Homo sapiens: one gene and its partner. The protein of the gene in region 1 purifies or fractionates together with the protein of each later gene. This does not show direct contact. Each region holds a gene or a part of one and is shown on either strand. Other genes may lie near its edges. The genes, in order: MOGAT2 and CLCN3.

Region 1 (3,135 bases):
ACCCCCGGAAACCGAGAGTCGATGAGGGTTTGTTGTTTAAAGCAGCCAAATTTTGGAGTGATCTGTCATGCAGTGATGCAGAACTAATTTAATCACCTCGGAGGCAAAGCCTGAGTCTTCTTCCCCTTATCCCTGCCCCAGGCCTCATGTGGGTGGGATTGAGAGGAAGCACACATGTGAGAATTCATTTACTCAACCAACTCCCACTCACTGGGGATGCTGAGGTCCTGTGCTGGCGGTGGAGCTGGGTTGAATGGGGCTGAAGCCACCATGGATAAGGGCCTAAGGGGGTTCCCAGTCCACTGGGAGACAGAGAAGTACACTCGCCTATGAATGACTATGACCCTTTCATCCCTGAAGACAGTGCAAAAGAGGGCTGATTCAGGGCAAAGGGCAGAGTTTGAGGGTAGAAGTGTAGGATGAGGTTTGACAAAGGAGGCGACCTTTGGAAGTGAGTGACGCTGACCAGACTGAGAAGAAAGAGTGTTCCAGAAGGAAGGGAACGGTGCGCCCCTAAATAAGCCAGTGCAAGAGCAGAGTATATTCAGAGAGCAGCGAAGGGGGCGGGAGTGACAGGTGGCAAGGGGAGAGGGTCCAGAGGTGAGGCTGGTGGGGTCTAGAGGGCAGATGATAAAGGCCTTGAATGCCAGGCTGAGGAGGAGTTTAGGCATTATCCCGAGGCATTGGACACCATTTCAAGAGTTCAGTTTTATTTGTGAGACAGGATGCAGGTCCTGTTTGTGGGTAGGCTGGAGGGAGTGCACTAGAGGCAGGGGCATTGGCGCAGCATTTACCTGGACAGCAACACCTCCTCCCCAGGGTGCTAAGGGCTGTGGTGGAGGAACAGAAAGTCTGGAGAAGCCAGAGGAAACCCCTGTCAACCAGAGGCACTGGGGAAGACTTCTTTGCACAGATAAAATCAGTATTGTAGGATGAGTAGGAATTATCCAGACAAGGGGGAGATAATGGGGAGGATATGGCATTCCATGGCATCCAACATCATGGGCAAAAACTCAGAGGTGAGACAATATAGCTGAGACAAAGAAATGCAAATGGTTCCGAGTGATGGGAGCACGGAGTAAGGGAGGAAGAGAGATGAGGATGGACAGGCTGGGCCAGATGCTGGAGAGTGGCAAACGGCAGGCTGAGAAGCTCGGGCCTGGAAGTGGACATGTTCCGTCTTCCGTTGACCCCTCCAGATCCACTCTGCCTGTCTTTGCCATTCTCCCTTTCCCAGGAGGCCTACATGCCTGGACTGCAGCCACAGGCCCTCCTTCCCTCCAGCTTCTAGTTGGGCTCAGGCAGTGGGGAACTTGGCAGCAGACTGAATGGAGGAAGGTGAAGTGGGAATGCTTGCTCCTGGCTCCTCCCTTGCAGGGTCACCAGACCTGTTCGTGCCCCTTGACCAGCAATGGCCCCCACACATGAGTCTTCCTGGTTCAGGAACTGCTGCTTCCATTCATCCTTCCAGGCCTCAGGGTGGAAACAGTGCACACACCTCAAAAAATGGTTCCTTTTTAAACCCTCCTCAAATTATCCTCTGGTTCCTGCTGGATCCTGATCCTCTGGATTCAGACTGGTCCAAACCCTATCCTAGGAGCAATGGAGGGTCATGGAAGGATGCTGAGTAGGAAATGGCGCGGTCAGCTTTGTGTTTTAGACAGCTCGCTGTGGCTGTGCATGAGGGATCAACAGGGGAGAGCGAGAGGGAGATAGGGCAGCGATGCAAAGCTGAGCTGGGATCCTCGGGACACACAGTGGTGGTACCATGGTCACACAGGGAATTCCAGGGTGTGTGTGCCTGGGGTGGAGAGTGCTTGTGCTTCAGGCTTTTAGTTTTTAAGTTTTGGTGGATTGTTTGCAAAGACGGCAGTAAGAATCCCTGCATGTGTCCACACCCTTTTGTAATATGACATTGCTGCTCCTCCCATCCAGAGGGGGATCCTATTCCTTACTCCTTGAATCTGCTGGGTTGTGACTTGCTTCGACCAACAGAATGCAGTAGAAGAGATGCTTGTGAGGTGTGCAGCCTAGGACTCGAGTCCGTGCAGCTTTGGCTCTCATCTTTTGGAATCAGCCACCAATGAATGTTAACAGACCACTCAATATAGAGAGGGGCCCAGTGTCCATGTGCAAAGAGAGGCCCAGCCCCTCTAGCAGCCCTCACTGTCCTAGCCCCAGCTGACCCCTTGGTCTGGTCTCCTCTTCTGCATTGCCTGCTCTGACTTACAGCCTGATATGGGTTGGATTTGCAGGAGTCTGGGAAGGCTCTGCAGATATGTTCAACAAACACCTCCAGGAAGTCTTCTCAGCACAGCACCTCCTGCTGGGCTCCCTAATGTTGGCCCTGCCCTTTGGGCTCAGCAGAACTCCAAGTGCTGGTCAGCAGGGATGTTGAACTTAAGTTTGTGGGCCTCGAAGAGGTTGCACAGCTCTTTGATATAACGCTGGTGCAGCTGGTTCACCTCCTCCTCCGAGGGATGCAGCGTCTTCTGTACCTCGATGGGCTTCCCCACTGCAAGGCATAGAGGTGTGCAGTGGCCTAGGGTAGGCAAGGGACCCTCGGTGCAGGTGCCCACCCCCATGGTTCATCCCTGCAGAAAAGTGCTCTTACTCCATTCCTTCCAACCCTAATGAATTTTAAGATATTAGGGCAACTCCAAGATTCTGATATAATAACAACGGCTGGATTTCTTTCTTCCTTTTCTTTTCTTTTCTTTTTTTTTTTTTTTGAGGTAGAGTCTCGCTCTGTAGCCCAGGCTGGAGTGCAGTGGCGCAATCTCAGCTCACTGCAACCTCTGCCTCCTGCGTCCTGGTTCAAGCAATTCTCCTGCCTCAGCCTTCCGAGTAGCTGGGATTACAGGCATGCGCCACCATGCCCAGCTAATTTTTGTATTTTTAGTAGAGATGGGGTTTCACCACATTGGACAGGCTGGTCTTGAATTCCTGACCTTGTGATCTGCCCGTCTCGACCTCCCAAAGTGCTGGGATTACAAGTGTGAGCCACCACGCCCAGCCAGTGGCTGGATTTCAATGTGTCAGGCAATGCACTAGGTGCTTTACATGAAATACTCCCTTTTATCCTATGGGTATAAAAACCTGTCATTCCTATTTGACAGATGAGTCAATGAGGCT
Region 2 (3,827 bases), on another chromosome or scaffold:
AGCAGCAAAAAATGATCTCCATAAAGTTTTGAGAGGAAAATAATAGCTAACCTAAAAAAAAGAAAAGGAAAAGAAAAATTAATGCTATAATTTTATAAGATGTTTCTGATATATTATAACTTGAATGGTAAATATCCTAGCTCTAAATTTTGCTGTAGTTAGAATTTACATGTAATGGATTTTACTGTAATAAGAAAAATTGATGTTATTATTATTTTTGGAGATGGTGATCATCATTACAAATTGACAGTATCAATTGATCATAAATGTCTAATAAATACTAATAGAATACCTAGTGCTGTTTTATATTCAAAATGAGTTTCACATTCAATTCAATCATGGTAGTTAAAAATAAATGTACCATCACCAACTCCTGTTAACTTATAATGCATTTAATTTGCCTCTTCTACATTAAAAAAAAAAAAAGAATACAAACAACTAAAAGAAAAAAGTACATTTAAAAACATCTTGAACTAAAAGAGTTAAATTCATAGAAGTAGAGAGTAGAATAGGGGTTACCAGAGGCTAGGGGTTGGGGAGGTGAACAGGGAAAGGGGAGACATTAGTCAACGGGTATGAACTTACAGAGGAGGAATAAGTTCTGGTGTTCTATTGCACAGTAAGATGACCACAGTTAATAATATGTATTATATATTTCAAAATAGCTAAAAGAGGATTTTAAATGTTCTCACCACCACAAGGACATAATAAATATTTGAGGGATTTGCTAATCACTCTGATTTGATTATTCCGCAATGTATACATGTATAGACACATCACATTATACCCCATAAACAAAAACAATTATTATTTGTCAAAAAAAATTAAAAAAAAATTCCTGGTTACATTTTTATGTAAAAAGAAAAGTCTTAAACACCTATTAAGAAAACAAAAACAAAATAATCCACTGAAGTCACTAAAATTATTTTCTTTAACATCACTAACTGTATCAGAAATAATCACATGGGAAAAACTTTAAAACACAACATAGGAATTGATTAAAATTTTTTAAACAAAAACTACTTGGGAGGCTGAGGCAGGAGAATCACTTGAACCCTGGAGGCGGAGGTTGCAGTGAGCCAAGATCGCGCCATTGCACTCCAGCCTGGGCAACAAGAGTGAAACTCCGTCTCAAAAACAAAAACAAAACAAAACAAAACAAAAAAACCCCACAAAAAAACAGCCTGGCCAACATGGTGAAATTCCATCTCTACTAAAAATACAGAATTTAGCCAATGGAAATAGATTGTTTCACATGTCCTCTATTAAGTCAAATTCACATCTTCTTACTTTTAAATATGTCAACAAAGTTAGATTTTAAATAATTACTAACATTCATACATTAATAAATTTTTAAAAAGTTTCCTCCAGGTATGGAGCATGAATAACATTTACTTTTTATTAAGAATGAGTGGAAAACAACTTTAGAAAAATAAATTTGAAAACAAAGTCTCTACCTATTACATCACCTACAAAACTGAAATGTGTGAAATATATTTGTAATGGTAATTATATATAATTTTAATTGTTGTATTCTTTTCACCTACCTCTTCCAGGCTAAAAAGAACTCCTCCAATTGGTGCACCAAAAGCTACAGAAACCCCTGCAGCTGAGGCAGCTGATAGCACCTAGAAAGAGGATATGGCTTATTTCATAATTTCATAGAAATTCAAACATACCAAATAAAAATTCTTCATGTTACTTGAATTTTCCAAATGGATTTTCTGAATTTAACTTGCATGTTTCCTTGCTCCCTAAGCAAAGGGTAACTATTCATTTCTTCTATTAAGATTTGTTTCTTTCTCCTGGCTTTAATTGAAAGGTCAGTCATGCATTTACCATTCAGTTAAAAAAAATTTTTGCCAGATATACTAATGTGAATAGGGTGTAAAGAGGAGGAGGCAATGAATATAGACAATTTTCAAGACGTATGTTTGTGTAGGTAAGAGGGGAGGGCAGTAACTGGGATGGGGAGCTATTTTTAAATAGGATATCATTTCTTCAAATTTTAGAGCTAACTGCTCCACCATAAATACTCTATTCCAAATCGTAGCAAGATATGCAGGGAACCGAAGACCTTGTAAGATTCCCTATATTTTCACTACCCTATGCATTCTGAAATACTGCTAAAATACTATCAATCTAGAGAGCCTCATTCTGAAAGCACACACAACAGCTCCTCAAGTTACAGTCTCACCAACCAACACCTCTACAAAAAAATTAAAGGAAAAGAAAAATCCAAGGACACTCTTCCGTGTCCTCTCTCCAGCTCCCCAGTCTATCAGTTGGTAATGGTCTACTTCCCACCTGTAAGCCAACTATACCTAACTATACCTATAATTTCACTAGGGTTTTATTTGTAATTATTTTTCTAAGAGTCTGTATTCCTTTATTTTTTTTGAGACAGAGTTTCTCTCTTGTTTCTCAGGCTGGAGTGCAATGGCGTCGTCTCAGCTCACTGCAACCTCCACCTCCTGGGTTCAAGTGATTCTCCTGCCTCAGCCTCCCGAGTAGCTGGGATTACAGGCGCCTGCCACCACGCCCGGCTAATTTTTGTATTTTTAGTAGAGACGGGGTTTCACCATGTTGGCAACACTGGTCTCGAATTCCTGACCTTAGGTGATCTGCCTGCCTCAACCTACCAAAATGCTGGGATTATAGGCGTGAGCCACCGCGCCCAGCCAAGTGTCTGTATTACTTTCACTACTTTAATACAGCAAATATCCAAAGCTACCTAAAGTATTTCTTCAAATGGTCAATTGTTACATTTCCAGAAGAGAAATTATAAATAATAAAAATTAAGCTGTAAATGGTTAAGATCATGAACTCCATAGTCAGGCTGCTGTGTTGAAATCATGGCTCTGCTACTTACTAGCTGTATGGCTATGGGTAGATAACCTAACCTATATGTGCCTCAGTTTTCTCTAAAATGGAAACGTGATAATATTACTTAGCTCTTAAGGACTGAGTAAATATATACAGAGTGCTTTAGAACAGTGCCTGGCACCAGTAAATACTTTATAAAAGTTTGGTGAATTAAAAGTAAATAAATATTTGTTTTAATCAAATTGTTGGCATTAAAATGTAGACTCTGCTTATTTGGGGAGGAAAGGGAGCAAATTTAGCTTCTTTTTTTTTTCCTCCACTAAGAGGAAAGCAAACATATTTATTTGAATGTCCTGATCCTGAATTTACAACCAAACTAACACCTAGGTATCTATAACTCATATACATGTTTTAATCCATTTCATACGTATCTAAGAAGCATTTAATTTAAAAATATCAACGCTCTCCCCTCTTGTCTACACAAAACTATGGGACCTTAATGCTTTCAACTAACCGTGAATTCTTGCCATTTATATATACACTAAGGTGACAGAATAACAACGTATTAAACATTAACTAATCACTACAGTATGAACATTAAAATTTAGGTAAACTTAATTTCTCAAACATCTAATAAATTACATTTTTTGAACTTAGAATAAGTAAAAGTCTTACCAAAAAATATAAAGGTACAACAGAAAGTAATGGAATTGAATTGAGGAGGCAAATGCTCTAGCTTCATCTTAGCCACTAACTTGCTACGCTACAGGATGGTTTTGAGTTTGTTTTGAACACACACAAATATATACCCACATAGTCGTAAGGGCAGTAATGTAAGTAGGTAAGACCACAGACTTTGAAGTCAAAGAAAAATGAATTTTAACCTACGTTCCACCACTTACTAGGTATGTAGTCTCGGGCAAGTTAGTTAGCTGTTTTCAGCCCTAGTTTACTAATCACTAAATGAGGATAACAGGGCCATATTACTAAATTACTGTGAA

Evidence for each region.
Region 2: the proteins of MOGAT2 (region 1) and CLCN3 purify together in Homo sapiens (affinity purification with mass spectrometry; one large-scale study listed by BioGRID and IntAct). This does not show direct contact.

Annotation. Positions count from the first base shown.
Region 1 is NC_000011.10:75,730,512-75,733,646, reverse strand, and holds the end of MOGAT2 (2-acylglycerol O-acyltransferase 2), read right to left. Parts: exon of another isoform or gene 2,945-3,135; intron 2,516-2,944; coding exon 2,361-2,515; 3' UTR 694-2,360; downstream 1-693.
Region 2 is NC_000004.12:169,693,413-169,697,239, reverse strand, and holds part of CLCN3 (H(+)/Cl(-) exchange transporter 3), read right to left. Parts: intron 1,629-3,827; coding exon 1,548-1,628; intron 52-1,547; coding exon 1-51.